Linked DNA regions of Homo sapiens. The protein of the gene in region 3 purifies or fractionates together with the protein of the main gene of each other region. This does not show direct contact. Each region holds a gene or a part of one and is shown on either strand. Other genes may lie near its edges.

Region 1 (4,328 bases), on a different chromosome or scaffold from region 3:
GTGGGAGAACCGCTTGAACGCAGGAGGCAGAGGTTGCAATGAGCTGAGACCATGCCATTGCACTCCAGCCTGGGTGACAGAGTGAGACTCCATCTCAAAAAAATAAAAATAAAAACAAAAATTAGCCAGGCATGGTGGCATGCGCCTGTAATCCCAGCTACTTGGGAGACTGAGGCAGGAGACTTGCTTGAACCCAGAGGCGGAGGTTGCAGTGAGCCAAGATCATGCCACTGCACTGCAGCCTGGGTGACAGAGTGAGACTGCGTCTCAAAAACAACAAAAACCCACACAAAAATAGAGCCATTTCCCCAGGTCTGCACAAAAGAGAACATCTACACCTAGAAAAGAAACATTTAAGAACCAAGAGATCAAACAAGCACCCACTGAGTAATGCAGAGCAGCAACAATCCATCGAAAGCCACCTCACCTGGTTTCCAGAAAGAGGTGAAGTGAAGTGGTGACTATGGAGGTTTCGGCCAGTGTTGACATGTGTCAGCCGGATGGGCTGGCCACACTTGATGGGGGTTCCCCTCTCACACACTGTGGCACTCTTCCCCCGTATCCTCCAGTAACTGTTGCTGTCATCCACAGAGGTTACACCTGTCACTGACTGCTGCCCACTACCTGCAGTTAAGAAAAGAAAGGCAACTCTCTTTCTCTGCCATGGACAACATGCTCAGAGACAGAAGCTTGAGTGCGCTCAAGATTCACCTTCACCTGTAACCCACCACCATGACCAAGGAAGACACGCTGCTGGAGGTGTAATGGATATTAATACTGCTCTACAAGAGACTGAAGACCGCCCTCAGCCATGATGGCCTAGCAGGTGGAACCTGCAAAGCTGCCAAAGCCTTAGACAAGGGCCAAGCCCATCTTTGCGTGCTTGCATCCAAATGTGAAGAGCCTATGTATGTCAAGCTAGGGGTGGCCCTTTGTGCCGAACACCAAATCAACCCAATTAAGGTTGATGACCTTAAGAAACCAGAGACATGGCTAAGCCTTTGTAAAACTGATAGACAAGGAAAACTTTGTAAAGTGGTTGGTTGCAGTTGTGTCACAGTGAAGGGCTACAGCAAAGAATTTCAGGCCAAGGATGTGACTGTGTACTTCAAATGCAAGAAATTAACAAATAAATTTGGTACCCATTCCTCAAAAAAAAAAACAGCAAGTGAGCTCAGCCTCACCCTTCTTGCCTATGGCCAATATTGTGCCGTGTCATTAAACAGGTAAGAAGGGGTGGGGAGAAAAATGCTATGCTTGGCAATATTTTTTCTTCTACAACATTAAAATATTTATAAAAAATACAAATCATACTGGGCGTGGTGGCTCACGCTTGTAATCCCAGCACTCTGGGAGTGAAACTTGACCTCCCAAAGTGCTGGGATTGATGGTGAGCCACTGTGCCCAGCCTTTTTCTTCTTTTAAATAAAAAAAAAATTTTTTAGGCTGGGTGTGGTGGCTCACACCTGTAATCCTAGCACTTTTTGGGAGGCTGAGGCAGTTGGATTGCTTGAGCCCAGGAATTCAAGACCAGCCTGGGCAACATGGCAAAAACCCATCTTTACTAAAAATACAAAAATTAGCTGGGTGTGGTGGTGGCAGCCTGTAATCCCAGCTATCTGGGAGGCTGAGGTGGGAGAATCGCTTGAACCCGGGAGGTGGAGGTTGCAATGAGCCAAGATCGCGCCACTGCCCTCCAGCCTGGATGACAGAGCCAGACTCCGTCTCAAAAAAAATAAATAAATAAACTGTGTCCACGTAATACTAGTTACTATATGATAAAGTATACTTAAGGGTATGTCATATCAGAAAATTCTAAGAATTTGCATCAAAGGATATCCAAGGCACAAATCTATGTGAGTTTTTTGAGGCACAGGCAGTGGTAACCTATACACACTAGCCTGGATAGCCCCTAATGTGTCTAATCACATAATTTTAACATGTTTGTAATATTATTCATGTTCATTAACTATTATGATAAAAATTTTTGTATTTCACAATTAAAATGAGACTATGTTGCCAACTTTAAGCAGCCATTACAGCTCCCAACTCCCATAAGTGGTCAATTATTATAAACGTATTATTTAAGCAAGGCACGGTGGCTCACGCCTGTAATCCCAGCACTTTGGGAGGCTGAGGCAGGCAGAACACAAAGTCATGAGTTCGAGACCAGCCTGGCCAATATGGTGAAACCCCGTCTCTACTAAAAATATAAAAATTAGCTGGGCGTGGTCGCATGTGCCTGTAATCCCAGCTACTTGGGAGGCTGAGGCAGAAGAATTGCTTGCATCCGGGAGGCGGAGGTTGCAGTGAGCCGAGATCACACCACCGCACTCCAGCCTAGGTGGCAGGGCAAGACTCTGTCTCAAAACAAAAACAAAAACAAAACAAAAAATGTATCCTTGGAGGTCTGGCACAGTGGCTCATGCCTGTAATCCAAGCGCTTTGGGAAGGTGAGGGGAGGATCCCTTGAGTCCAGGAGTTCGAGACTAGCCTCAGCAACATAGCAAAATGCAGTCTCTAAACGTACATATATATATATGTATTTTTTTTTTTTGATACAGGATCCCTCTTGTCACTCAGGCTGGAGTGCAGTGGCACGATCACAGCTCGCCACAGCCTTGACCTCCCAGGCTCGGGTGATCCTCCTACCTCAGCCTCCCAAGTAGCTGGGATTTCAGGCGCCTGCCACCACACCTGGCTAATTTTTCTATTTTTTGTAGAGATGGGTTTTTGCCATGTTGCCCAGGCTACTCTCGAATTCCTGGGCTCAAGCAATCCAACTGCCTCAGCCTCCCAAAGTGCTAGGATTACAGATGTGAGCCACCACACCCAGCCTAAAAAAAAATTTTTATATTTAAAAGAAAAAAAAGAAGCTGGGCACAGTGGCTCACCGTCAATCCCAGCACTTTGGGAGGTCAAGGTGGGCAGATCGCTTGAGCCCAGGAATTCAAGACCAAGCCTAAGCAACTGACAAAACTCCATCTCTACAAAAGATGCAAAAAATTAATCAGGTGTGGTGGGGTGCACTTGTAGTCCCAGCTACTCAGGACGCTGAGATGTGAGGATTGCTTGAGCCCAGGAGGTCAAGGCTGCAATGAGTCGTAATTGTGTCACTGCCAGTTACACGGGTAAATGTAGCCAACTATCAGCTCCTTTCATGACTTTATTATATCTTTTTTCAGAAAAGGCAAACCAAGTCTCCCTTCCTACTTCTGGTTACTGCCTTACAGCTCTCTGGGTCCTCACAGCCACGCTTCACTAAACCATGGTCTACATTTTGTCTCCTACATTTTCTGCTTTCTATTCAACCGTTCACTTCTTCCTCCAAATCCTTATACCTTGGGATTATCCAAAGTTCTATGCCTGGCCTTCATCTGTTTCTACCTGTAGTTTTTTTTTTTTTTTTTAGTATTTATTGTTCATTCTTGGGTGTTTCTCGGAGAGGGGGATGTGGCAGGGTCACAGGATAATAGTGGAGAGAAGGTCAGCAGATAAACATGTGAACAAAGGTCTCTGGTTTTCCTAGGCAGAGGTCCCTGCGGCCTTCCGCAGTGTTTGTGTCCCTGGGTACTTGAGATTAGGGAGTGGTGATGACTCTTAACGAGCATGCTGCCTTCAAGTATCTGTTTAACAAAGCACATCTTGCACCACCCTTAATCCATTTAACCCTGAGTTGACACAGCACACGTTTCAGAGAGCACGGGGTTGGGGGTAAGGTTATAGATTAACAGCATCCCAAAGCTGAAGAATTTTTCTTAGTACAGAACAAAATGGAGTCTCCTATGTCTACTTCTTTCTACACAGACACAGTAACAATCTGATCTCTCTTTCTTTTCCCCACATTTCCCCCTTTTCTTTTCGACAAAACCGCCATCGTCATCATGGCCCATTCTCGATGGTCGCTGTCTCTTCGGTGCTGTTGGGTACACCTGCAGAAAGGCTGTCACTTCACACTTGGAAGACTGCACAGCGGCCAGGCAGAGGCGCTCCTCACTTCCCAGACGGGGCGGCCGGGCAGAGGCACTCCTCACTTCCCAGACAGGGTGGCCGGGCAGAGGAGCTCCTCACTTAACAGACTGGGTGGCCGGGCAGAGGCGCTCCTCACATCCCAGACGATGGGAGGCCGGACAGAGGCGCTCCTCCCCTCCCAGACGGGGCGGCCGTGCAGAGGCGCTCCTCACTTCCTAGATGGGACAGCCAGGCAGAGGTGCTCCTCAACTCCCAGACGAAGGGCGGCCGGGCAGAGGCGCTCCTCACATCCCAGACAATGGGCGGCCGGGCAGAGGCGCTCCTCACTTCCCAGACAGGGTGGCGGCCGGGCAGAG
Region 2 (4,984 bases), on a different chromosome or scaffold from region 3:
GAGGAGGAAAAGGAGTGGATGGTCTTGCTGTCTCGGGGGGGGGTGGGCAGAGGCAGAAGAAAATCTGCGCTTAAGTGTACCTGTGCAGTTCAAACCTCCCTTGCTCAAGGTCAGCTGTATCAATTTGAGCCCTACTCCCTGTCTGTAACCTCTTCTGTGTATATTTTAACAGACCTTCACTCCATATGGAACATTTTCGGGAGCTTTTTGGAGGAAAACTCAATTGTGCCCCAAACCTTTGGAAAACTTTTGGAAAAAACCTTATTTATTTATTTATTTATTTTTGAGGGAGAGGAGTGCTGGAGCTGCTGTCTAGAAGAGGTGGGGATGTGCTTAGATTTCCACAGATGTAGGACTCGATGATCTTTATTTGTTCAAGCCTCCAGCACTCTTTTCAATTTTCCCACCAGGGAAAAAATCTCACAAGGCGTGTGCTCAGTAAGAAGTTACATAAGATTTCAACATGTGTACCAGGACAGATAGAAGTTTTTCTGGAGGTAAAAAGTCTCAGGGGGTTGGGGAAGCCACACTAACACAACAAAACTAAAATGTCCCTGTCAGACCAGAGACCCCTCTCTTTGAGAGGTAGACTAGGGCTAAAGAGCTTTTTTGCTCTGTACCACGTCTTTCTACCATGCCCTGTGGAATACACCTCTAAATACCATGCGAGCAATGAACTAAAGACAAAGAAAAGGAAACACTTAAAAAGAGTCAACACAATTGCTAGTTTCATTTTTTTCTTTTTACTTGAAAACTTGTTTTAACCATCAAATTTTGGCAGTTACAAACCTGTACACTGTTGTGTTTTTTTTTGTTGTTGTTGTTTCTTTTTTTTGGCTGTCTTTTTTTTTGTTTGCTTTTGTTTTTTTTTTCTTTTCTTTTCTTTTTTTTTAGAAAAAGAACACAAGACTGAATACTGCCACCAGCAATATATGCAGGAACAATCCATTTCCTTAAGGGACAAAATCCACTCTAAGTGTTAGCTTTCCCCTTTGCATAAGGTTTGGTGTGTGATGTGTGTGCAAGTTGAGGTGAATGTGCATGTATATGAAGAAATGGCATACCTCATTGTGATTCTGAAATTGCATAAAAATAAAATACTTAATAACTGGGCAAAACACATTCTTTTTTACAAATGTCAATAAAGACAATTTTTCTTGAAAACAGAGAAAGTTAAATGAAAACAGTAAGAACCAAAGAAAGGTTACAGTACATTTTGAAATGAGTAAAAAACATCATTTTCAAATCTAAAATCCTTGTGTGTGTGTGTGTGTGTGTAGTTACCTCAAAAGTTTGCAGACCAACAGCGTGGATGACTTACAATTATATTCGACCCCCCAAATTAAAGCATCCTGATAGGCATCAAATATAGTATCTACAAAAGCCTGGAAAATTGAAACCATTTATATACAATTTTATAAACATTTCAAACACCAAAACATACATCTTTTACAAACCAGCCTGTTTGCAACAGGCAAACGTACAAGACAATCTCTCTGATACAGTGCTTAAAAAGAACTGCTTCCATTTCCAAACACATTTGCCACTCCCAAAATGCAGTAGTGTGGGCTCATAAGATTGTTAAATAGTAGCAATTCAGTTATTTGTTTGCCAGAAGGGTACTACAGTACATACTAATTGGTCCAAACACGCTCCAAATGACTCTACGATTCTCAAGTGCATTCTAAACACTAGAAGAGACTAATTATGGCCTTTGTGTATTATTACCTACTTGTAATTATTGCTTTTCATTATTACATAAGGAAAGAAATATCATATTCTTTTCCTATCTCTTAGCCAGCTGGCTAAATATTAATTGATGCCAAACCCACAAATGGTGACTTTAAACCCCAGCATTACACAACCAGAAGCTCAAAGACATTGTGGATTTTCATCAGAATAATGTGCAGTTGAACACTGTGGGACACAAACCAGCAAAAACATATAACCACCTTCTCACAGAGCACACAAAATGATGACAAGGAATAAATGCCTCTTCAAATCTCCATTTCCCATAGTTTGAAACTAAAAACATAAAACATTAAAGCCTAACCACTTTAGCAATACCTGTGCACTGGGAAGGCAGCGGAGTGAAGAGCCAATTATCTGGACAATCCATGCAAAATGAACACTAGATCTTCCTGAATTACTTCACATAAAACTGTTTTCTGGATTTTAATAATTTATTTTGATAATCTCTTTTCTCAATTCCCCTGACTTTGATGATGCAAACATAGCATCAGTGGGGGTAGTGGATAGGGTGGGGTGGGAAGTAAGTAGGAGAGGACTGATGGTAGATATGTTCAACTTGCTTTTTTTCCAGAATGTGCTAGTAATGTCCAAGGGAAGTTCCAGGCAAATCCCAGAAACTAGTTCCCTTTCCAGCCTTTCACATTTATTCCCTAATTGGATGAACCTCAAAGCATGGACCACCTACTCATGTTCCTAAGTCTTTTATATGGCATTTCATGAATAGGCAGGCCAAGGGTACATGGAAAGCTGGCATAGACTAGAATGCAGCAGCAAAATATTCATAGAGGAAAGGGAATAAATGAAGCATGCATTTTATTCACCTTTTATTACTCCCAAGTTCTTGCTTACTATATGACGAGCACCAAGAGTCTAGCTATTCTCAACCTAACCAGAATGTGTGCAATACTAGTAAAGTGCCTACAACAGATTATGGGAAATGGCTTCCAGGAGGTGGCACATACATGTTCGAAAAATGAGAAAGACATTAATTGATTTAAATAGTTTCCACATGGTTCATCATGGTGGAGGGGGTAGGACAAAGAGTAGCCAGTGTTTGTGGGAAGAAAAAAATGCAAAACCAAAACCAAAAATGCAACCAGTAGGTAACAGTATAATCAAAGTTTCACTACAACTGATGACTGGTCTGAGCTGAACTCTGTAATTATCATTTCATCCCTATTATACAAACATTCATTTGGCAAAAGCAGCATTTCGATGAATGTCTACAGAAATGTATGAATTCTATAACCCCTCTCCCTAGGGGGACTGCAAGGAAACATAAGATCATGAGGCTTTCAGAAAAATATTCTCCATGAATTTTCTTTTATAGCATATTCCAAAGAAGGAATGGTGGAAGTCAGAGGGTCCATCAGAACCAGGTGACTCCCATGCTCAAGGCAGTGTAGGGGTGAACAATATGATGTAAAAAGAATATTGGCTAGATGGATGGGTTCTACTCCTTGTTAAGCGAATTAACTTCCTCTGTGGGCTTGGGCAAGTCTCTTTCCCACTCTGGGTATGTTTCCTCTTTGATAAAATAAGGAGTTTGGACTAGCAAATAGGATTCTTCCAGCTTTTTTGAATTAGTGATCATCCCCACCTAGTAGCATCTTGGCCTGACTGCAAAGCATTTCATAATCTACAGAGAAATCTAACTTTCCAAAAAGTGAAGAGATATCATGTGTTTAAAGATAATAAATCAAAACACAATACATGCTTGCCTGGTATATATTTAGCTGCAGAGCTATTCTGCAGAAAATCAGGGGATGATATCCCAAAGAAAGAGATATTTTATATAGGTCACAGCAAAGGGTGGGCACAATTTTCTTCAGTGGCTTCATGACTGCATTAGGATCTATTTATTCTTTCATTACTGTGTCAGTCAGGCATTCTCCCTCAAAGAGATGCTGTGTAAGCAGTAGGGACTCATCAGCATTAATCTCATTCTAATATTTCCTGGGGGCAGGAAATGACATGTTGGTTTTACTTTGATGGTTTTTATGTCATTGCATTACTTAAAGTGTAGCAGTCACTCTATTCTAGGCCATTAGTTTGTCATTTTTTTCCATGATTCTTGCAAATGTGCTTCTTACATAAGAAAAATACCAAAGACTTTGTTCTCGAAAGCAGCCTTAGTGAAATTCATTTATTTCAAGATCACAGTGTGGATAATACCTCCATGAGTAGGTCTGACCAAGAGACAGGAAGAGAAAGGCTGGAAAACTTGTGAAGTGTAGTGTATCCACTTACTTAGAAAGTTTGGGAATGAAAAAGGATTTTTTTTTTTGCATAAACATTCAGAAACACTGACTCATAAAAAAGAAGTGGATTAAACGCAATTGAAATAACTAAAAATATGTCTGAGTGAATAATGCACAGACTAGGGACAGTACAATTTACACACCAATGCCATATGTCATCAGAAACTGTGGACACAGATTTGCTCATTAAGCAGATAGTGCAAATATGCATATATTTACCATGGCCACTGCACAGGCGGCCGTAATCTGATTGAAGCAAAAAAGGAAAGTCCCTCAACCTGTCAACTTTCAGTTTTGAGGACTGGATTGTTATATTTCCAGTGGAATGATTCTCCTGTTAATTTTGGAAATCATGGCCAAAGCCCACAGATGAGAAGGGAATCCCAGGGTGTAATCAAACATTACACACTTTTAAAACAGAGGTAAGTTCTGGAAAATTATAACAAAATACTGTTTTTAAAAAGCACAGTTTTGGGCTGGGCACGGTGGCTCATGCCTGTAATCCCAGCACTTTGGGAGGCCACGGCAGGTGGATTACGAGGTCAGGAGTTTGAGACCAGCCTGGCCAACATGGTGAAACCCCATCTCTACTAAAAATACAAAAAATTAGCCAGGCGTGGTGGCACACACCTGTAACCCCAGCAACCTGGGAGGCTGAGGCAGGAGAATCGCTTGAACCCAGGAGGTGGAGATTGCAGTGAGCTGAGATCATGCCATTGCACTCTAGCCTGGGTGACAGAGCAAGACTCTGTCTTGAGAAAAAAAAAAAAAAGCACAATTTTGCTTTATTGGCAGTACCAAAATAAAGTTAACTGAACCAGAGTAAAATATGGCATTTGATGTTTCTCTAACACCATAGAGATCAGAGAAATTGAAAGGTATGCCATGCTCGCCGGCAGAATTTTCAACATGGTCCATTTCCCAAAACCTTCACATTAGCTTTCCTCAAGAGCAGCCTTACTGAGTGCAAG
Region 3 (5,091 bases):
TTTTTGCACTGACTCTGATGGTTGAAGCAGGTGATTTAGTTCTGGAGTGCAGACTAATCAGCTGACCATTTGCTCTCACTCCTCTGAGGTTTGGATGCCTAAGAAGAGAGGATTTGAGCCAACAAATGACTATGGGGTGCTTGGAACCCAGTAAGCCCTCACTTCTGGTGGAGTAGAGGATGGGCCTGTGGCTACAGACAGACCTCATGTGACCCTGATCTCCCCTTTGTGTTTGTGTGACTCTTGCTCAGTCACTGTGCCTTCCTGTGCCTCAGTTTTCTCTCAATCAAATAAGCTAAATGGCAAATGGACTGTGGCTTTTCATGCTATCTGTGAATAAATGTTAAATTATTCACAGTCACCTGACCTAATGCTTGGCACAGTGGAGGTTTCACACAAACAGCATTTATTATTAATTTGCTTCCATGAGAAAGCACCTTTACGTCAGATCCCTGTGGACAAGCTGCTACCTGGTACATCTTCTCTCTTCTGTTTCTGCTTCTGGGGACATTAGTCTTTCTATGGACTATCCTAAGCCTCCTAAGGCAGTTGGGTGATGGCCTACAAAGCTTGTCTTTCTGTCCTCTCCACTCTGAGTATCAGGTGAAGAAAGCTCTGTCCTGGCCCAGATGAGGCTCTGAGGGCTGAGCCCTGGCTGGTGAACAGCTCCAGGAGACACAGTCCTCTGACAGCTGGTAAATCCTTGGTCCCAGTAAGCCCTGCCCAAGAAGCCACAACCCAGTCCCAGCACAGGCTCCTCAGCTTTATCTGGAACAAGGATTTAGGGACAAGGGTCTGGGGTTGAGGCTTCTAGGGCTGAGCTTCTCTGAGAGTATCTCAGGGGGCCCCTCAGGCCAAGCCCTACTCAGTTATCCAGGGTCTTTCTCAGGGTCAAATTTATGAAGAGGGCATGAGGTGCTTGGCTGAGACTGATCTCCTCCTGCTGAGTCCCCCCATCAGACTGTCCTTCCTCTGCAGCGAGTGTCTGCAGGGTCTGGATGCAGGAAAGGAATTCTGATCTGTTGAAATTTGTCTCCTCTGTGTGTGTCCTGCACTAAATGCCCAAATCCCAGCATGGGACATAACGCAGTGAGTGACACAGGCAGAGTCCAGGCCTGACAATCCTGTGTGTGTGAAGTAGAAGTGACCCCTGTCCCCCAACACCCAGGGATCATGTGGAATCACTTACGGTGTAAGGTGAAGGTGAAACGTCCAGTTACTCCTCTAGTCCCATCATCTCCCTTTATGATGTGTAAGGTGTAGGATCCTGCGTCCTCCCGGGTGACATTCTGGATCAGCAGGGATGCATTGGAATATGCTGTTTCTCGTCCACTATATGCAGGCCCATATATAATTATTTCACCGTCTACTACATATGATGTAATGTAATGGTAGAGGTCCCTCATTTGCCCTTTGTACCAGATGTAGCCGGTAAGATTCTGGGGCAAATTGTGGACAAGTAGAAGAACATCCTTCCCCTCGGAAACTTTGGTTGGCTCGGCTTCAATCGTGACTTGGGCAGTGGTGGGCAGGTTCCAGAAGTTTAAAAGTGATGCTAGGAGGTGGAGAGAACATCAGTCAATATTGAGACCTATGTATTGGTGTGAAAACATGGGGCCCTGGGTCCTGAGAAGGTCTCTTCAGTCCTCAGCCTTGACAACACAGACACACACACACATACAAACACACACACACACACACACACAAAAGCGGCATGTGTGATTGTGTGTGTGTATGTGTGTGTGTCCTACTGTCCTACTAGGTCAAGGTCAGCAGCATGACGCCCATTCCTTCAACACTTCTGACGTTGGCATTTTTCTGTTTGGAATCCTCTTCCCCAGGGGTCCGCATGGCCCCCTCCACAATGCCCTCAGGTCCTGCTTACATCAGGGCATCGTTAGACTTCTTTCCTGATGCCTGCTTCAGAGACCCTGGGTCTTCCCTTTCTGACCTTTCCCTGCTCTGCTCCCTCCAGGGTTCTTGTCAACACCTGACCTCACATTCTAGATCTCTTTGCATGTCTGTCTTCCCCCCCATGACAGCGTGAGCTCCGTGAAGACAGGGACTTTTGTGATCTTGGTTGCACCCCAGTGCCTGGAACAGGCTGCAGACTCCTGTAGATGTGAGAGTTCTCAGGGCCCTCCATGCCCTGGGTGTTTTTTTTCCCCCAATTGTTGAGGTTTCTTGCTGAGGACAGTGTTTCCTGCCCTGTTTATATTTTTATTTGAGGTGTCATCTGCTATAGTTATTATTATCATTTTTCAAAATATGGTGGCCCCTGATGATTAATCAGGAAAACAGAACACTTAAGATTTTCCTACCTCTTACCAATTCCGGTCCAATACGACTTTCCTGTTTTGACCCCTGTCCCTCTCTGGTGTATTTTCCCCTATCCAGGCTCCAACAGAGCCTTCTTTCCTTTTTTTCTTTTTTCTTTTTTTTTTTTTGAGATGGAGTCTTGTACTGTCGCCCAGGCTGGCATGCGGTGGTGCTATCTCAGCTATCTGCAACTTCTGCCTCCCGGGTTCACGTGATTCTCCTGCCTCAGCCTCCCGAGTAGCTAGGATTATAGGAGCACACCACCATACCTGGTTAAATTTTTGTATTTTCAGTACAGACAGGGCTTCACTGTGTTGGCCAGACTGATCTTGAACTTCTGATCTCATGATCCACCCACCTCAGACTCCCAAAGTGCTGGCTTCTTTCATTTTTTAGAACCCCATCCTCTCCAGGAGACCCCATCCAGTCACTCTGCTTCCTCCTCCTGTCCTCTCCCAGGAAGTTCTCTCCTCACCTGTGAGCAGGAGCCCCTTCCATTTGATGCGCTGTGTGCAGGGAGGGGCTGAGAGGGTTCCCATGGTCTCTGCTGCTTGTGTGTTCTCCTCTGTGGAGATAAGCCTAGGATCCAGAAACTCTCTGAGCACGGCTGTCAGCTGTGCTGTCCTTCCTCTTTCTGTGCTGAGCCTCTTCCCAGGGCAGGAGCAATTCTCAAGCTCATGGGCAGGGTCAGGCCCAGGACACCTCTCTGTCCCCTCCTCTCTAAGTCCTGCCTCCTTGTCCCTCCTTCTGTTTCTCCTTTTGTCTGTGTTTCAGGTCCCTGGGAATTGTGGCGGCCTCTGCCTTTTTCAGCAGTGATTCTTTCACCAAACCTCAAGACACACTTTGTGCAGACACACAGACACACACACACACACACACACACACACACACAGAAGAGATACACACAGACCCACACAGTCAGACACATACCCTGCAGGTTGGGCAAGAACAGTCCTGGGCCTCAGCCTCCTGGTGTCCCCATGGCTCTGGGTCGGGGTGCAAATTAACGCCCTTTGGCCTCTTTCATCCCCATCAGGCTCTCCCCTTCAGTGCAGGAGGCTGGAGCTGTACCAGGTCCCTGTCAGAATGATGCCCCATTGTGCTGTGGGTGAGCTGTGTGTTGCCTGGTGAGAGGGACCCTTCCTTTCTCTAATCATGTCTAGCTTGGCTGCAGCTTCCAAGGATGGACATTCAGGACCTGGGTGTCCCAGAGGAAACTGTCCTTTCTGGCGGTGTGCAGGGTGAATCTCTCATGCCTCTTGGGAGGAGAGGCCTGTGCTGGTTGCTCAGTGGGGGCTGTGAGTCCCATAGTCAAAGGGACAGTTCTCTGTCAGTCTATGGCTCCCTGGGGTCTGGCGGCTGAGCTGGAGCTCATAGTTTCTCATGTTCTTCCTGACCATCTTTGATGTCCTCTCTTCTCTGCCCAGCTGACTGTCCTGTGGTCACCACACCTTCCCTGTGGTGGTGCAGGAGGAAGTGGGGAGTTACCCAGGAACCCTGCGGGACATGGCTCATTGAGATGCGGGAGGGGGAGCCTGGGACAGAGCAGGGGTTCAGAGCTGGAGAGATTCATCCCAACTTACTCCGTGGCCATGATGGGCTCAGCCCTCCATATGCTGACATACCCAGGGGTCTGTCCTGATGGTTTTGACCTGGCCAAGCTGCTGTGTGTAGAGGAGGAACAGGCAGTGGCCAGAGAGCCTGTCTGGAGGGACATTGCTCTCACCTGAGAGGGCGGGTGGGGGTGAGTTGTGTTCTGAGATCAAAGAGCAATAACATTCCCCTTCTTCCCGCAAGCACACAGGAGAGGTCTGTCTTCCCAAGGGACAGCTGGTGTTAGGTGGCCACATCCCGGATGGTGCCTGTGTGTGACCATCACACGCGCTCTGAGCCCCCAGGGTGCAGCGGGCAGGCAGGTCACAGGGTGCCTGGCTGATTCCCGGGGAGGCTGTGGGCCCTCAGGCAGCCGCTGTTCTGTGTCAGCGCTAGGCTTGGCCTGGGATGCCCCAGAGAACAGGACAGATGGAGCAGGGGTGGGCATTTAGGGAGCAGTGCCAGAAAGAGTTGATGAGGATGGAGGGAGGTCACGAGGGGAAAGCACCCGGTGTGGCATCGCGTGCACCAGCGCTGCCCTGGGAGATGCCTTTAGCTGGGCCCAGGGAAGGAGCAGGTGTGTGGGGAGGAGCTACCTGCAGGGGGAGTGGTGTTAGGTTGGCGGCCGCCAGGTCAGGGAGGAGCTGACAGTGTCCGTGTGGGGAGCATGGAGGGCGCTGAGGACTTGGGCAGAAGTGACCCTGTAGAGGGTGGACACTGCTGGGCTGTGGGTTCCGCTGAGTGAGGTTGGCATCCCCTGGGAAGACTCCAGGCTGGGAGGGACTCTGTCCCCCTCTGGTGGACAGGGAGGGAAGTGTGAACGGCAGCAATTCCAGGCCAGGATGCATGTTTTATTCCACGTGGATCTGCACAGTTCACACGAGGTCACACCTGTGTTATGTTACAGCCCCATCACCTTCCAGCCCCGTGAGTCCCAGTCTCTGTGGCTCTATGTTCACTGTTCTCCCTCTTTCACAATCAGATGTCCCAAATGCAGATTTTTGTCACCTTCTGTGAGTTTGTGTTTGTGTGCAGTAGGCGGCACTGTGTATACCCTGGGGGCAGTGATGTCTGGGGCTGAGCACTGCAGTTGGGCTTGGGAGCAGCAGGGTGGGAAGATCAATGTCAGGGGGGCAGGGACAAGTCATTTTCATTTTCTCACTCCCAGGGACCAGAACC
Region 4 (4,328 bases), on a different chromosome or scaffold from region 3:
TGAATGAGGATGCAGCTGTGGGCACCAGTGTGGTCAGCGTGACCGCAGTAGACCGTGATGCCAACAGTGCCATCAGCTACCAGATCACAGGCGGCAACACCCGGAATCGCTTTGCCATCAGCACCCAGGGGGGTGTGGGTCTGGTGACTCTGGCTCTGCCACTGGACTACAAGCAGGAACGCTACTTCAAGCTGGTACTAACTGCATCTGACCGTGCCCTTCATGATCACTGCTATGTGCACATCAACATCACAGATGCCAACACTCATCGGCCGGTCTTTCAAAGTGCCCACTACTCAGTGAGTGTGAATGAAGATCGGCCAATGGGTAGCACCATAGTGGTCATCAGTGCCTCTGATGATGACGTGGGTGAGAATGCTCGTATCACCTATCTCCTGGAGGACAACCTGCCCCAGTTCCGCATTGATGCAGACTCAGGAGCCATTACATTACAGGCCCCATTAGACTATGAGGACCAGGTGACCTACACCCTGGCTATCACAGCTCGGGACAATGGCATCCCACAGAAGGCAGACACTACTTATGTGGAGGTGATGGTCAATGACGTGAATGACAATGCTCCACAATTTGTGGCCTCCCACTATACAGGGCTGGTCTCTGAGGATGCCCCACCTTTCACCAGTGTCCTGCAGATCTCAGCCACTGACCGGGATGCTCATGCCAATGGCCGGGTCCAGTACACTTTCCAGAATGGTGAAGATGGGGATGGAGATTTTACCATTGAGCCCACCTCTGGAATTGTCCGTACAGTAAGGCGGCTAGACCGGGAGGCAGTATCAGTGTATGAGTTGACTGCCTACGCAGTGGACAGAGGTGTGCCCCCACTCCGGACTCCAGTCAGTATCCAGGTGATGGTGCAGGATGTGAACGACAATGCACCTGTCTTCCCAGCTGAGGAGTTTGAGGTGCGGGTGAAAGAGAATAGCATTGTGGGCTCAGTGGTGGCCCAGATCACTGCAGTGGACCCTGACGAAGGCCCCAATGCCCATATAATGTACCAGATCGTGGAGGGGAACATCCCTGAGCTGTTCCAAATGGACATCTTCTCTGGAGAACTGACGGCACTCATTGACCTAGACTATGAGGCTCGCCAAGAATATGTGATTGTGGTGCAGGCCACATCTGCTCCTTTGGTCAGCCGGGCCACTGTGCACGTCCGCCTGGTTGACCAGAATGACAACAGCCCTGTGCTCAACAACTTCCAGATCCTCTTCAACAACTATGTATCCAACCGTTCAGACACCTTCCCGTCGGGCATTATTGGGCGCATCCCAGCTTATGACCCCGATGTCTCCGACCACCTCTTCTACTCCTTTGAGCGTGGCAATGAGCTGCAGCTGCTGGTAGTCAACCAGACCAGTGGGGAGCTGCGACTCAGCCGAAAGCTAGACAATAACCGCCCACTGGTGGCCTCCATGTTGGTGACTGTCACAGGTGAGGGGCAGGGGGCAGGCAAGTGACCCAGTGACACCAACCTGTTGGGCCTCAGGGACTCCACAGGGCACCTCAAACCAAAGAGGGATTTCTAAGCCTTCCAAGAACCCCTTAAGGGTAGGGTTCCTGCACCCTACAAGATCTGCCACAGACCTCACAAGGACTCTGCTTAGGTTCCTGGATAATCTCCACAGAATCCCAGTGATTCCAAGGCATCTAGCAGACCCCATAAAGCCTGTAAAGAACTGTCTGCTACCTAGGGATATCTCCCCTCCTGATAAAAGGTCAGAGGTCCTGGGGTAATCCTCTGGAGGTCCTAGGCAAAGCCAGTATGGGCCAGTCAGTCCACACTATGCCCATGTTCAGACGAAGGGTTACTTTGGGTCCAGTCTGACGCTTACCCTATCTGTGCAGGAAATGACCAATACTTGAGTGGTCAGGAACAGCAGCTTACTATGGAAGCTTCAGGTGGACAGTGGCTTCGTAGGGCCTGAGACCCTGACCTTTGGGAAAATGTCCAGAGGTCCACTTGCCTCTTTCCTGCCCCATCTGCTCCAGTCTTTCAGAAACCCCTCCATAATAGGAGAGTGCAGGTGGGAGAGGCTCTTGAAGTTCTGCCTACTGGAGGCTGCAGAGGTTGGGAAATAGGCTTCACTGGTGCTCATTCCTCAGTTCTGGAGCAGGGACTCCTGGCACTGCCTGAGAAGGCACAACCTTCATTTATCCCTCAACTCACTCAACAGTCTATCCTTATTGACCACCCAGTATGTGCTAGGGTGTGGGGACAAGACGAACAAGGCAGCTAAGCACCTCACCTTCATCTCTGGGGTGGTCACTGTGAAACCACAGGACCCAGGTCTGGAGTGGCGAGCAGGCTGCTAACTCAAGAATGCTGGTGTGTGTGTGTGTGTGTGTATGTCAGGGTTCAAGACCCCCCTGGAGCTTGATAACCCAGGATTCTGGAGGATGGCATTGAGTCTTCACTGGGCCAGGGCCCCTTCTAGTGTCATGGAAGAGCAATTTGCTGACCAAAAATAGGAGATAGGTGATCCCTGATCTGGAACCCTTCTTTTCTGGAGGGGGATGTTTTGCTGGTTCTGCTATGCTGGAGGAGGGGAGAAGGGAAAGGTGGCTGGGAATGAGTGGCCAGTGGCCCTAGCTCCTCTCTGTGTCCTGAGTTGGGGTGGCCTGCTGACCATGATAACTTGGGGAAGTGTGGGTTACTGAGTACTTAGGGTACTTGAGTGCTGTTGCGGGAGTGACTTGCTAACCCATGGGCACTGTGTGGGGTTGCTTGATCCTTGGCCCAGACCCCTCCGTGTATTGGGGATTGGGGGAGGAAGCAGCAGCTTTTTGACACCTTGATGCTGGGGGAGCTGGTGGTCACTAGCCCCAGACTCCCTTGTGTCCTGGTGGGGTCAGCCTGCTGACTTAGAGGTTCTGGGGGCCTAGGCTATCGCTGGCCCCAGCCCTCTTGTGTCCCAGGGAGGGGTGGCCACTGTCCCCAGGATGACCACTGCCCCTGCCCCCGCCTGCAGATGGCCTGCACAGCGTGACGGCGCAGTGTGTGCTGCGCGTGGTCATCATCACGGAGGAGTTGCTGGCCAACAGCCTGACCGTGCGCCTTGAGAACATGTGGCAGGAGCGCTTCCTGTCACCGCTGCTGGGCCGCTTCCTCGAGGGCGTGGCTGCGGTGCTCGCTACGCCCGCTGAGGACGTCTTCATCTTCAACATCCAGAACGACACAGACGTAGGGGGCACCGTGCTCAATGTGAGTTTCTCGGCGCTAGCTCCACGTGGGGCCGGGGCGGGCGCTGCAGGGCCCTGGTTCAGCTCCGAGGAGCTGCAGGAGCAGTTGTACGTGCGCCGGGCGGCGCTGGCGGCTCGCTCCCTGCTCGACGTACTGCCCTTCGACGACAACGTGTGCCTGCGAGAGCCCTGTGAGAACTACATGAAATGCGTGTCCGTGCTCCGCTTTGACTCGTCCGCGCCCTTCCTGGCCTCGGCCTCCACGCTGTTCCGACCCATCCAGCCCATCGCTGGCCTGCGCTGCCGCTGCCCGCCCGGATTCACGGGAGACTTTTGCGAGACCGAGCTCGACCTCTGCTACTCCAACCCATGTCGCAACGGCGGAGCCTGCGCGCGGCGCGAGGGAGGCTACACGTGCGTCTGCCGCCCGCGCTTCACCGGTGAGCAGGGCGCCGGGCCAGAGCTGGGGGAAGCACGGGCCAAGGCTGGGGGCGGGACCACAATGCGAGTGAGTACTGGGAGTCACTTCTGAGGCCACGGCCTGGTATGGACGCGCTTAGGCCAGAAGCCGTAGAGCGTGGCCGGAAGGGGCCGCCGCCGAGGCAGCGATGAGACTGGGGAGGGGGCGGGGCCAGACGGAAGGGGCGTGTCCACCGAAGAGGGCGACCTTTCGGGGGTCTTGGCACCCGGCCTCTGGGCGCGCGGTCTTTGAAGGGGCCGGAGCAGGGGCGGGCGTGGGCGTGACCGCCTCTGACCGCGGCTTGGCCCCCAGGAGAGGACTGCGAGCTGGACACCGAGGCCGGCCGCTGCGTGCCGGGCGTCTGCCGCAACGGGGGCACCTGCACCGACGCGCCCAACGGCGGCTTTCGCTGCCAGTGCCCGGCAGGCGGCGCCTTCGAGGGCCCGCGCTGCGAGGTGGCTGCGCGCTCCTTCCCGCCCAGTTCGTTCGTCATGTTTCGCGGCCTGCGGCAGCGATTCCACCTTACGCTGTCCCTCTCGTAGGTGCCCGCCCCGTGTCTGAGCGCCTCCCCGCCGCCCCCACCTACCCGCCCTGACTCAGATTCCTGACTGCCCCGTCCTGGCATCCCCATGAGACACCGCCCCTCCCCTGACGCCCCGCCCGG
Region 5 (4,328 bases), on a different chromosome or scaffold from region 3:
TAAAACATTGTAAAAAGTTATGTTCTATACTTATTTCATTGACAAAATGACTGCCCTCAGAACTGAGTTCTCCACAGAACCCTTCTTAAGGTTCCTCCCCTTGTAATTTAAGTCCATCTCTTCCTGTCATCTGCTGTACAACTATTCATAATATATGTGCTTGTATAGTGTTCATAGCCTTCTCTATTCTAGATTAAATAACAGAAATCTAACTTGCTAAGCGTCCAAACCATTCTACTGAATTGAGGGAACAAAAATCACCCTCAACTTCTCATTCCTCCTCTTCACTGATGATCTTATGTCATATTACTTTGAGAAAATAAGAACGATCAGATGTAATGTCCACCTTCCCACCCCAAAACCTACAGACCTAAGTACACTTGCACCAATATTTTCTTCTTTACCTCTTACGGCAAGAGGAAAAATCCCCTTATCTCTATCAACAGGGCAACCTACACTCCTTTATCTCCACTACTACTACCTTGGTCCAAGCTCCTGTTATCTCTCACCTGGATTACAGCCAAAATCTCCTAACTGATCATCCCATCTCTACTGTTTCCCACTTCACAACAATACTCCACATAGTAGCAAATGTGACTGTTTCAAAACATAAATCACATTATGTCACTTAAATAGTTAAAATAAAACCCAAACTCTTTACCATGGATTCTAAATCCTAGAGTTTCTAAGTATTGCTCTAATCTCATCCTGTCACTCTCCCTTACAACCATTATGTTCCAGTTACAGTGTTTTTAGTAATTTATCTGCAACATACCAGCTCTTTCCTGATCCTGGGCCTTTCATGCATTGTTCTCATATGTAAAGCTTTCTTACCCAACCATAACACAGTTAGCTATGCTTTAGGTCTCATAAACGTCCCTTCATGAAAAAGTCTTCCCCTAATTACTCTGTGCCTGTTACTCACTATCTCTGCCCCATGTCTGTTTCTTTGAGAGCACTTATTACAACTTATTCATTAGACTATAAGCTCCATGAGGGCAGAAACTATGTGCATCAGGTTTTATCTAACACAGTGCTAGACATAAGCAAGGGCTCAATAAATATTTGCTAAATGAACTAAGTGAAGAGACAGCCAGGGTTAGGCTACAATCCTGACTCTACTACTTCATACTGGTTTGACTTCAGTTAAGTCACAATATTTCTGTGTTTCAATGTTCTCTTCCATAAAACAAAAGAAAGAGTACATATCTGACAGGATTGCCAAATAAGACCTACTAAAGATTAATTGGCAATAAATAAAGACTAATCACGCATCTTTCAATGTAAGTATTAAGTACTTGTAAGTAAATAAGTGCTATTAAACTTAATTTAATGTTAGTTTCCTTCCTTCCCTTCTATAACTTAGACAGTAAGAATTCCCTAAGCTAATACAGTATTGAAATAATATATTTATATATACTTAAAAAGAAGAGACTCTGATAACATGTATTTGAATAGATACATTGGTAATTTGTATTTGCAGGATCTAATCCTAAATTTTAGAAAATGGGAATAAATAATGTACATCTATTACTTAACTCTCTCAAAAAGCAGGGAGTGATAAGGAGAAAAGAAGAAAAACAGAAAAGAAAGGTAACCTTAGAAATTAGAGATCATCAACTTCCAATTCCTAAATTTAGAACAACCTTCCTCTTCTTATAAAGACTTGCAGTAAGAACAGGATTAATATCTAAAATAAAAATATTCTATGTTTACTTAAATCTATATAATTCTCACTTATATTTCATATATATTTTTACTGAACTTTCACCCCTTAAATTGTGGTATCACTGGTAAAGTGGGGAAAAAAAAAAGGAACAACATCTCATATCAGAAACACAAAAAGGCCCTCTTGTTCCCTTAATATTTTAATAAGCTTTAAATTTTCTAATTACAAAAGTAAATCTCAACATTTTCTTTAACTGCTGCTCACTTTTCAGGCTAAAATCCCTTTTATGTTCTTCAAAAGAAATTTTACTTTCTAGGAACCTTATAAATCATTTACCATACATCATTCAAATCTCCTCCATACTCTATCTAGAATACAGTTAACAGTGCTTGTTTAATACTTTCTGCCCTGATAACCACCTAGAATTTTGTGGAATGTGCTGCCCACCTTCATATTCTCCCAAGGATATGGATATAATTTAGATTCTGAACTCAAGGAAGGGTTTATGTTAAGCAATTAATTCAATTTTATTCAACACATTTTATGTAATCAAACTTGACTTTGTAAGAAGTAATTGGTATCTGGTTTAGATTTTTCCCTCATGTTCCAGTTACTTCTACAACCTTTCTAAAATTGGAATTTCTTGTCTACCCTTAAACCAGTTATTAAGTGCTACTGAACATTCCATAAAATTCATGGGAAAAGATTCATCCATTACATATATGCAAAGTAAAAAGATTATTTTAGGCTACCACAACATCTAGAATACTACTGTGAACAGTAAAGACTCTTGACTGTAATAAGCTGAAAACCAGTTTAAAAATGAATTTTATCACAAGTCAATCAGTATATGCTGTGAACAGTTCTACGACTATCAAATGCTCTGGCAGCAAGTAACCAAAAATTAACCATCTGCAACTCTTGAAGTTTATTGTAAAATGATATACAAACAAGAAACATTCTAAATTACATTTATTTATTTATTTATTTTTTGAGACAGAGTTTCACTCGTCACCCAGGCTAGAATACAATCGTGCAATCTTGGCTCACTGTAACCTCCACCTTCCTGGTTCAAGTGATTCTCCTGCCTCAGCCTCCTGAGTAGCTGGGATTACAGGCATGTACCAGCACACCTGGCTAATTTTTGTATTTTTAATAGAGACGGGGTTTCGCCATGTTGGCCAGGCTGGTCTCAAACTCCTGACTTCAGGAGACTCACCCGCCTCAGCCTCCCAAAGTGCTGGGATTACAGGCTTGAGTCACCACGCCTGGCCTCTAAACTATATTTTAAGGCTTCATCTTGGGTAGTGTTTTTCAAGCTAAGGACTGCAATTTATTAGTGGATCCAAAATTTATTTAATGAGTCCAGACCAGCAAATGAAGAAGGGAAGGGTGAGAAAGAGGAGGAATAAATAGAAAACATCTGAGTGCACAGGTAGTTAAGAGTACGATTTCATTAACTTTTTTCTCTATGTACATAGTACCCGAAGCAATGTGTATTTTAAGGGTGGGTTTGAGTAAAAGTTAGGAAACACTAATCTGGGAGACAAACAGAAGTGGAAAGGATAAAGCAACGGAACTGTCAGAATTACCAAATTGTGGTTTAGGAGGTGAGCAAGACTAACAGCTTCTATTGACTAGGAGACAGAGGTTTTGGAAACTCCCATAGATTTGTAAAAGCGAGACATCCCTATGTGAAAAATGACAAAGCACTTTTTCCTCTTACAGTAAGCCTAGGACAATGCGTAGCAAAGCTTGTGGTTGTCACCACTGATATTTTTATCCCTTCAAACTTTCAAAGGTGGCAGAGGTCAACCTTTACTCTCTCCTAACTCTTAGGCACATTGAATGCGGTTAAGATACAGTAGCCCCTGAAAGATAATTACAGGTCCTTGAACAACTACTTCTAGAAAACATTATATTCTAGATTACAATTTAGAGTTTCAGGTAAGACTCTGGCATTCAGAAAAGTTAATTTGGAAGTACAACAGTCACATATCAGAGCCCATAAAATCGTCATCTGGAAAGTAGCACCAAAATAAACAACAAAAAATTTTTTTATGTATGTGAAATGTTTCAAAAATCTGAAGCACACCTTAGAGTCATTTCATTTAAGAGTCACTCTGTGAAGAATTAATATTGGAGTTCCCTAAATATTGGCCAATCAACCTGCTTTTCTTTGTTAACAGTGATTGTGAATATTCAGTTTCATTAACAGAGCTAATTATTTTTGAAGCCTTTTAAAACACACACACACTTTTTACTGTATAGAGGACAGTTTCATAAATTACAGCTAGTATCTGTTCTAACAGGCTCAAGGCGACAGCTATTTCTCAGGATGCATCCACCACCCATTACAACTACTATATATTCTAAGTTACTCAATTCCCACTATTGTTATAGAACCACATCCACCCCATACTATTGTTACAGCCCTTTTTCACTATTATAAACCCACATATGGTTAGAGACAGAAGAGGACAAAAAACATGCAGCCATAAAGAGGATTTCTCAGTTCCAGGGTGAAGGGTTCCCTTTAATCTCTGCTGATATAGTTTAATGTTCTGCCTGGTTCACTACCTCCTTTTTTTTTTTACACTTTGAAACCTGCTGTGGCTTGAGACATCAACCTTTGGCATAATCACCTGCTGGTTTTATA
Region 6 (3,683 bases), on a different chromosome or scaffold from region 3:
TTTCTTGAAGTGGATATTCTGTATCTTTCTCTCTCTTTCTCTCTCTCTCTCTCTGTGTGTATGTGTGGAAAGATGTTAGAGCTTATGTAGGGGAAAAATTGCAGAACTTGTGTGTGATATGATTCCATAAGTGTATATGCCCATGCTTTATGTGGATAGAAACTTTCTGGAAGGAACTTAAATTTTTTTTTTTTTTATAGAAATAGGGTCTCACTACATCACCCAGCCTGATCTCGAACTTCTGGGCTCAAGCAATCCTCCCACCTCGGCCTCCCAAAGTGCTGGGATTACAGGCATGAGCTACTGTGTCTGGCTGGAAGGAACTTTTTAGAGTACTTCTAAGGAAAGGAAAAGGGTTTCACTTTTAAACATACTCTTACCTACTTATTTCAACTTTTTAAAAACCATGAAACATATGTTACTTTTATAAGTTGTTAAATACATATTCTTAAAAAGTCATGTGCCTCTAGCTCTGGAGTAACTTTCCGTTTTTCGTAATTTCTTTCAATAAACTCACTCCCATCCATGGACTTAATAGTCCTATCTCTGCAAATGATTCCCAGATCTTGATTCTAGCCCGGATATACCTCCCTCTTCTGAACTTCGGGTCTGCATTTCCTGTTGGCTGCTGGATATTTTTCTTTAAACCTAGACAGTACTGGCATCTTAAGTGCAATAGTCTAAAATCTCTCCACCCTGCACTGCTCTGTGTGTCTGTTGCCTATTGACTCAACTTCAAACGCTTCTTTCACTTGTTCATCATGTCCACTACCCCTTCTTCTGCCACAAGTTACAAGGACTTGGATGAGAGCCCAATTCTGCCTGACTCCAAAGGCCTTCCTGCTCTGCAAGAAGTGGGCAACATATTAGCCCTGATTTTACTTCCCTAGACCAACCATGGCATGGAAAATCCATGGCTTGCTCAGAGACACCCAGTTTTCTCCCTACTCACCTCTTCTGAGGAGAGGGCACTGCTTGCAGACGACAGTCAGCCTGGCACTCATGTTCTTGCCCGCCTGCTGAATCGCCAAATTTCCCTCTTTGTAGATGTTGATGATCGAGACTGTGGCGTGCAAACTCCCATCGCGAGTGATGGTTGTGATAACAGTGCCGGCTAATACTGCAGAAGAAAACATTTTGAAGTGATGTGACAGTGAAGGCAAATGCAAGCAGAACTGAAAAACAAGTTTACATTCTTCTAAGTTTCAGATACGAAACATTTTAATGTTAAAGAAAAGGCCCTCATAGAGGTTTCACATTTGCTTCTGTACATTTGTCACCAAAATTCAGGTTGGAGCTGTGATGTTACGCTGGTTGTTGGGGATTGATAACTAGAAGAGAAGCCTAAATACTTGCCACACTGCGGTCCATTGCCAAGGTTGAAACTCTTTAAAACGTTTTATCCAACTTGTGGCTTGATTGTCACATAGGGGATAGTCTGGCTTATGAGGCTCTACCTGTGAATACTCAAAAAGATCTTGTATCTTTAGAGGCAGTACCACGCTAAAAGATTGCGCGATGGGGGTTTGGGCCACTAAGATGTGAGTCTTTGTGTCGGTGTGGGTGTGTAGCCACCTTTCTGTGTCTCTCCTCACCCTTCTCTGTAGCTGTCCTTTCTTCCTGAACTTTTGTTCATTCCCTGGGTCCTCACCTCTGTCTAATTATCAGGAAAGCTCTGTCTTCTACGGTCTTTCATATTCTCTTTCTTATCCACTCCGTTTATTTCATTTAACAAGCTGAAGTATAGAACTGAGGTATTAACTTAAACTTTTTTTTTTCTTAAAAAAAAACCTCTAGTAAAATTCAGTTGATTTTTTCATTATGTAAACCCCTGTTTTTTCCATCATGACACTCCGAGAAAAGAGTCTCTCTTTGAAGCCACAGAAGGAAAGATGTTGTCTTTCTCACGGGGGTGCGCCTGGCATTCTGGGGGCTTGAGCAAGGACAGTTCCTTGTGGTGTAGGACTTGCACTGAATACAGTTTTTTTTTGTTGTTGTTGTTTTTTCATGAGATGGAGTTTCGCTCTTGTTGCCCAGGCTGGACTGCAGTGGCACAATCTCAGCTCACTGCAACCTCCACCTCCCAGGTTCAAGCAATTCTCCTGCCTCAGCCTCCCAAGTAGCTGGGATTACAGGCATGCACCACCACACCCAGCTAATTTTGTATTTTTAGTAGAGATGGGGTTTCTCCATGTTTGTCAGGCTGGTCTCGAACTCCCAACCTCAGGTGATCCACCTGCCTCGGCCTCCAAAGTACTGGGATTACAGGTGTGAGCCACTGAACCTGGCCTGAATACATTTTTTACCAGCCTTGTCCTTCCTAGAAAAATCAGTAGCAGTTCCTAGTTATTGTGACAACCAAAAAAATGCAGTAATCTAACATCTCTACCACTCCCCAGGGGAGCATTATCAGCCCTGGTTGAGAACCAGTGACTGATGATAGTTTTGGTCATTTTGCCATGTAAGCGGTCACATTAATGGAATAAATCAAGTTTTGGACTTGGTTAATCTGACTCCTTCAGAATAAAGTGAACACTCACTGCTTAGGCAGTGTGCAATGTTCATAAAATCAGAATTCCTATGATGCTTTACTTTGATCCTGCGTGATAAGTGTTCACTCCAAAATTCAGTCTATAGTCAAGTGAAATCAGTGGCTCCCAAGACACAGGGAGGGAGACTTCCTGAAGCACCTCCTACAGAAGAGTAAACTGGATGTGGTAGCAATTACATGTGGCGTTGTTTTCACATTTATGCCAGTTATTTGAATTTCAGCATGTGAACTCTAGTAAGGTTTAGGGTCCCAGAGTCTTCAGTGTCTTCACACCTTCACTATGATACAGCTCGTCTGGACTACAGAAGTCACTTCAAGGCACAGAAAAAGCAAGCAGAGCCTCTCTGGGGAAGTTTTGTTTGGGGAAATGTATTTAGGCCATAGCAACTTGCTCTTCCTGATCAGATTTGTCTTAAATGTTCCTTTAAAGCCACTGAAAAAATAACCAAGATAAAATGTTGTATCTTTTGCTCTTAAGTAGCTATCATAGATGGTGCAATCTTTCCACTGGAAAAAGCTCTTAAAAATTCTAAATCATTAAAGAACACCTCCTCAGGTTCCAGTTTGTGAGAGTTTCCAAATGGACTCCAGATTTCCAACTTTTACTTCAGTACCTCAGAAAGGCAGTACAGGGGAAATACTTGAATTTCTTCTGAGAGAGACCAGCTTCTGAATATAAGCTCGGGTATGTTTCTAATTTACTTAAGTTGAGTTATAGATGTGTGAAAAAATACTCTGTATATGAAAAATATATAAGGAAAAAAGTACATAGGTTTTTTGCAGGAATAGTCAGCCAGAACACACAATGTGGCAGTATCATGTACCAAGAGTCAAATTATTAAGCTTATATGAAAAAAGTATATTTTCTAAATCCATATTTTTCTCAGTGGTGAAATCTAACAATTTGACCATTCTGGTGTATAGGCAAGTATTTTCTTGGATAAATGAGCAGCGTTATTGACCCTTCACCATAAATTCATAGGAATTCCTTTGAGATTAAGCATGCAGCCTCAAGTTTCTGGTTAAAGAGAAAAAGACTGGCTTTTATTTCTTACCAAAGTCACTTGAACAATAATTGCCCTCCAGAGTCCCCGTCCGTCTACACTTTTGTTGACACAAGGCCACGGTGGGT
Region 7 (4,328 bases), on a different chromosome or scaffold from region 3:
AAAACAGAACTACTGGTAAGGGTCTATGTTCAGCTGTGCACCTACTGTCTTGATAAACATCTTAAACAACAGAAAACAGGGTTCGAGAGCAGAGAACCAGTCTGACCTCAAATTCACCAGGGTGGGGTACTGGAGGAGACCAGGGCGTATCTCAGTCCTTATCTCAACCGCATAGGACAGACACTCCCAGAGCGGCCGCTTATAGACCTCCCCCGAGGAATGCAATTCTTTTCCTAGGGTCTTAATATTAATGTTCCTTGCTAGGAAAAGAATTTAGTGATACCTCTCCTACTTGCACGTCCATTTATAGGCTCTCTGCAAGAAGAAAAATATGGCTCTTTTTGCCCGACCCCACAGGCAGTCAGACTTTATCGCTGTCTTAAAAATCGCTGTTACTCTGTTCTTTTTCAAGGTGCACTGATTTCATATTGTTCAAACACACGTTTTACAATCAATTTGTACAGTTAACACAATTATAGTGGTCCTGAGGTGACGTACATCCTCAGTTTACGAAGATAAGAGGATTAAGAGATTAAAGTAAGACAGGCATAAGAAATTATAAGAGTATTCTTAGGGAAGTGATAAATGTCCATGAAATCTTCACAATTTATGTTCCTCTGCTGCAGCTCCAGTCAGTCCCTCCGTTCGGGGTCCCTGACTTCCCACAACACTATTCTACATGTATTTAAGAAACACTAAACTAACCAAGTATATTTCTTTAACAGCTAAAATCATAAGAATTATTTTTAAGGTTAATCTTGTTTAATTGTGAATAGTGAATAATATAAAGAATAACATAAAAGAATAGTATAAAAGACATGTCTAGTTTAAAACATATAAAGTAAACATTCAAAAAGAAATCTGCCAGCTTAAAAGCTCCTTTCCACTTCTCGTGCTCCCTCTGAATCACCAGTCCTGCCCTTCTCCCTGCCTAAGGGCAACTGCTTGAATTTTGTGTTTACCATTTCACCTCTTCTTTCTTTATAGTTTTCCCACCGCACACAAGCATATCTAACTAAAGTTAACTGTATTTTGTCTGTTTCAAACTTTAAGTAAATATGGTGTGTGTACATATATACGTCATATATGTATATATGTATACTGTATATACGATATGCATACTGTAAATATATCAAGGCATGCAGGTACATACATAAACGTGTGTATGTGCATATGTACACATACATGCACATATATGTGTATTTACATATTGTGCATCTTATGTTATATATGGATACATGTCATATATATTTAGATATAAATATGTATGATTATATATACATAATTAAATGTATTTAAATTTATAAAACTCTTGGGAAACAATATTAATTACTAAATCTTTTCTGACACTTTACCTGGTATCCTAACTCTTACCCATCCCTGCATTCCATCACATCAGTTCCCTCCCTCTCTAATAAAAAGCTATGTAAATGAACTTTTAGTAAAGGAATAGGTAGACAGGTCTGGAGATTTTGTTTTAATAACTATATACATACTGACAAAATGTTCCTCCAGAAGATATCTAATTAATTACAAATGGGGAAATAATAACAGTGGAAAACCTACCAAAACACCAATTTAAACTAGTGATCAAAATTGACTTTATCAGTTAATTTGGATAAATAAGTATGGCCATTAGTCTTCAGCGAACCCGTACTGAGAAAAACACAGAATCACTGCTGTGGTACTCTTGTTAAAAATTAATCCAGATCTAATCACGAGGAACCATGAGACAATATATTAAAGAGAGGATACACACATATACATAAATACACACATATTCATACATATATGTACACCACATACATACACTATATATAAAATGTATGGCTTACATACAATGCAACGTATAATAAGTAAGGGTATGTGTGTTTGTGTATAATGGTAAGCAAATATGGTAAAATATTACCATATGGTGAATATGCAGGAAAAGTAAACAGAAATTGTTTGTGCTATTTATCCCAGCAGTAAATAGAAGAATGTGAGCTGTTAACATACCTGCTTATTTCTGGAAAGGGCTAAGTCACAAAGTCTTTCAAACCCTGCACTACATGACTCTGTGAAGTGAAATTTCTACATGTGAGCTGTGGCAGTCCTGTTGCACTAACAGGTATAAAAGGATGGGCTGGGCGTGGTGGCTCACGCCTGTAATCCCAGCACTTTGGGAGGCTGAGGCAGGCAGATCACGAGGTCAGGAGATCAAGACCATCCTGCCTAACACGGTGAAACTCCATCTCTACTAAAAATACAAAAAATTAGCCAGGCATGGTGGTGGGCACCTGTAGTCCCAGCTACTCGGGAGGCTGAGGCAGGAGAATGGTGTGAACCTGGGAGGCAGAGCTTGTAGTGAGCAGAGATCGCGCCACTGCACTCCAGCCTCGGCGACAGAGCAAGACTCCGTCTCAAAAAAAAAAAAAAAAAAAAAAAAAAAAGATGATACAACCATTTTGGCATGCCACTGTAATTTGTTGTCCTGAAATTTTCAAATCATTGACATCACAACAAACATTTCCCTTTGATTGAAGAAAGGGAAAATTTTGATGAGACATGAAGCAAAAATAATATTTTGGATGTAATATATCAACTACTATGATATATAATATCATATCTGTATTAAAGATACACATAGAAGGAAATATACTTAAACATGTAAAATAGTTATGTCTGGATGAGACAACAGTGATATTTTCTTACTCTGTTTTCTAAAAGTAGAACATAATACTTCAGAAGGAAAACATTTGGATAGGTATTCTATAAGGAAAAAAACAATGGTAATGAATGTTGGAAGAGTTACAGAGAAAGGAGAAATAACTAACAGATTTATAAATTAGTAAGGCATTCATTTTTGAAACGTTGACTTCAGCTGAATGGCGAGATTCATGAAAGATCAAGATATATAATAAATCTTAAGATGTAAATTCAAATCAGTCACACTTAGTTGTGTGATCCTGGGTAAATCACTTAGCCTTTTCTTAAAAAAGAGGGTATCTGTTTTGCCTACTGATAAAACTATTCTGTGAATCATGCAAGACAATTTGAAACAGTAATGTTTTAATCAAACAGTAAATACTAATGAATTTATAAATAAATGAAAAGTGAAGAAATATTGGAAACTCTAAAAAATTTCTTAGGTTCATTTTCTGGATACACTCATGAATACAAAGCACAAAATGTCCATTTATGGAAGCTGTTTTTTTTTCTCTCTCTCTTGCCTATGAATGTAATTTCTTAAGCTGATCCTCTGTCTTCTCATTTTACATTACTTCATTCATTCAATTAAAATGTGTGTTTATCACATCATTATAGATGACACACAAGCTCAATTTTAAGAGATGATCTGCTGGCTCTGGCTCAACCTCCATGTCTCAATTAAGTCATCTCAACCTAAATAAACACAGATGGGCATTGAGATTTAAAATATGAGCTCTGTAGTTCAAATGCTTGAGCTCAAATTCCAGCTGTGCCATTTTTTAGTTATCTGACCTACAAAACTGACCTGATCTTTCTGAGTTCCTTTCCTCACCCATAGAATGAGTTATTACTTCACTCATAGGATTTTTGTGAGGATGAAATTAGTTAATATTGTAAAACTCTCAAAATCATGTGGCTTAGTATAAGACTAAATAAATGAGCAATTGTTTATGATGATGATTAAAGATGGGTGTCCGACAAGCAATTAAAATATAACACATTTTATTCTAAATGCCTATTCTCTATATGACCAACTATTGAAATACCAGTCACCTTCAAGTCAAAGTTGAAATGCTGCCTCTTCTTGATACCTCTCCTAATTCCACAGTGAAAAGTACTTATTCCTCATATATTTTATTGTTAACAGTATTTACTTTTTAAATTGTCATTTCTTTTTTTTTTTTTTTTTTGAGACGGCGTCTCACTCTGTTGCCCAGGCTGGAGTGCAGTGGCACTATCTCCGCTCACTGCAAGCTCCGCCTCCAGGGTTCATGCCATTCTCCTGCTTCAGCCTCCCGAGTAGCTGGGACTACAGGTGCCTGCCACCACGCCTGGCTAATTTTTTGTATTTTTAGTAGAGATGGGGTTTCACCGTGTTAGCCAGGATGGTCTCGATCTCCTGACCTCGTGATCCACCCGCCTCTGCCTCCCAAAGTGCTGGGATTACAGGTGTGAGCCACCGTGCCCGGCCAAATTGTCATTCCTTATGTATTATATCATGCTGTGCATTTATCTTTATATCACCTACTAGATTGCTCCTTAAGTTTCAGAAATGGAGTCTTTATCTTCACATTCTAGTAGAGCATAACATATCTTTCACATAGTGTTCATTAAGTGTTCAGCTTTAAAAAAGTTAA

Evidence for each region.
Region 1: the proteins of PSG1 (region 3) and SDF2 purify together in Homo sapiens (affinity purification with mass spectrometry; 2 studies listed by BioGRID and IntAct, with this or other methods). This does not show direct contact.
Region 2: the proteins of PSG1 (region 3) and FAT3 purify together in Homo sapiens (affinity purification with mass spectrometry; 2 studies listed by BioGRID and IntAct, with this or other methods). This does not show direct contact.
Region 4: the proteins of PSG1 (region 3) and CELSR3 purify together in Homo sapiens (affinity purification with mass spectrometry; 2 studies listed by BioGRID and IntAct, with this or other methods). This does not show direct contact.
Region 5: the proteins of PSG1 (region 3) and LRP12 purify together in Homo sapiens (affinity purification with mass spectrometry; 2 studies listed by BioGRID and IntAct, with this or other methods). This does not show direct contact.
Region 6: the proteins of PSG1 (region 3) and PCOLCE2 purify together in Homo sapiens (affinity purification with mass spectrometry; one large-scale study listed by BioGRID and IntAct). This does not show direct contact.
Region 7: the proteins of PSG1 (region 3) and MANEA purify together in Homo sapiens (affinity purification with mass spectrometry, with the first as the bait; one large-scale study listed by BioGRID). This does not show direct contact.

What each region holds. Positions count from the first base shown.
Region 1 is NC_000017.11:28,654,860-28,659,187, forward strand, and holds part of SDF2 (stromal cell-derived factor 2 precursor), read right to left. Parts: intron 625-4,328; coding exon 428-624; intron 1-427.
Region 2 is NC_000011.10:92,892,214-92,897,197, reverse strand, and holds the end of FAT3 (protocadherin Fat 3 isoform 1 precursor), read right to left. Parts: 3' UTR 725-4,984; downstream 1-724.
Region 3 is NC_000019.10:42,876,724-42,881,814, forward strand, and holds the start of PSG1 (pregnancy-specific beta-1-glycoprotein 1 isoform 2 precursor), read right to left. Parts: upstream 2,991-5,091; 5' UTR 2,859-2,990; coding exon 2,795-2,858; intron 1,556-2,794; coding exon 1,190-1,555; intron 1-1,189.
Region 4 is NC_000003.12:48,656,014-48,660,341, reverse strand, and holds part of CELSR3 (cadherin EGF LAG seven-pass G-type receptor 3 precursor), read left to right. Parts: coding exon 1-1,455; intron 1,456-2,993; coding exon 2,994-3,644; intron 3,645-3,976; coding exon 3,977-4,202; intron 4,203-4,328. UniProt on the Homo sapiens protein: Receptor that may have an important role in cell/cell signaling during nervous system formation.
Region 5 is NC_000008.11:104,582,583-104,586,910, forward strand, and holds part of LRP12 (low-density lipoprotein receptor-related protein 12 isoform a precursor), read right to left. Parts: intron 1-4,328. UniProt on the Homo sapiens protein: Probable receptor, which may be involved in the internalization of lipophilic molecules and/or signal transduction. May act as a tumor suppressor.
Region 6 is NC_000003.12:142,819,926-142,823,608, forward strand, and holds part of PCOLCE2 (procollagen C-endopeptidase enhancer 2 precursor), read right to left. Parts: coding exon 3,607-3,683; intron 1,121-3,606; coding exon 953-1,120; intron 1-952. UniProt on the Homo sapiens protein: Binds to the C-terminal propeptide of types I and II procollagens and may enhance the cleavage of that propeptide by BMP1.
Region 7 is NC_000006.12:95,580,278-95,584,605, reverse strand, and holds part of MANEA (glycoprotein endo-alpha-1,2-mannosidase), read right to left. Parts: intron 1-4,328.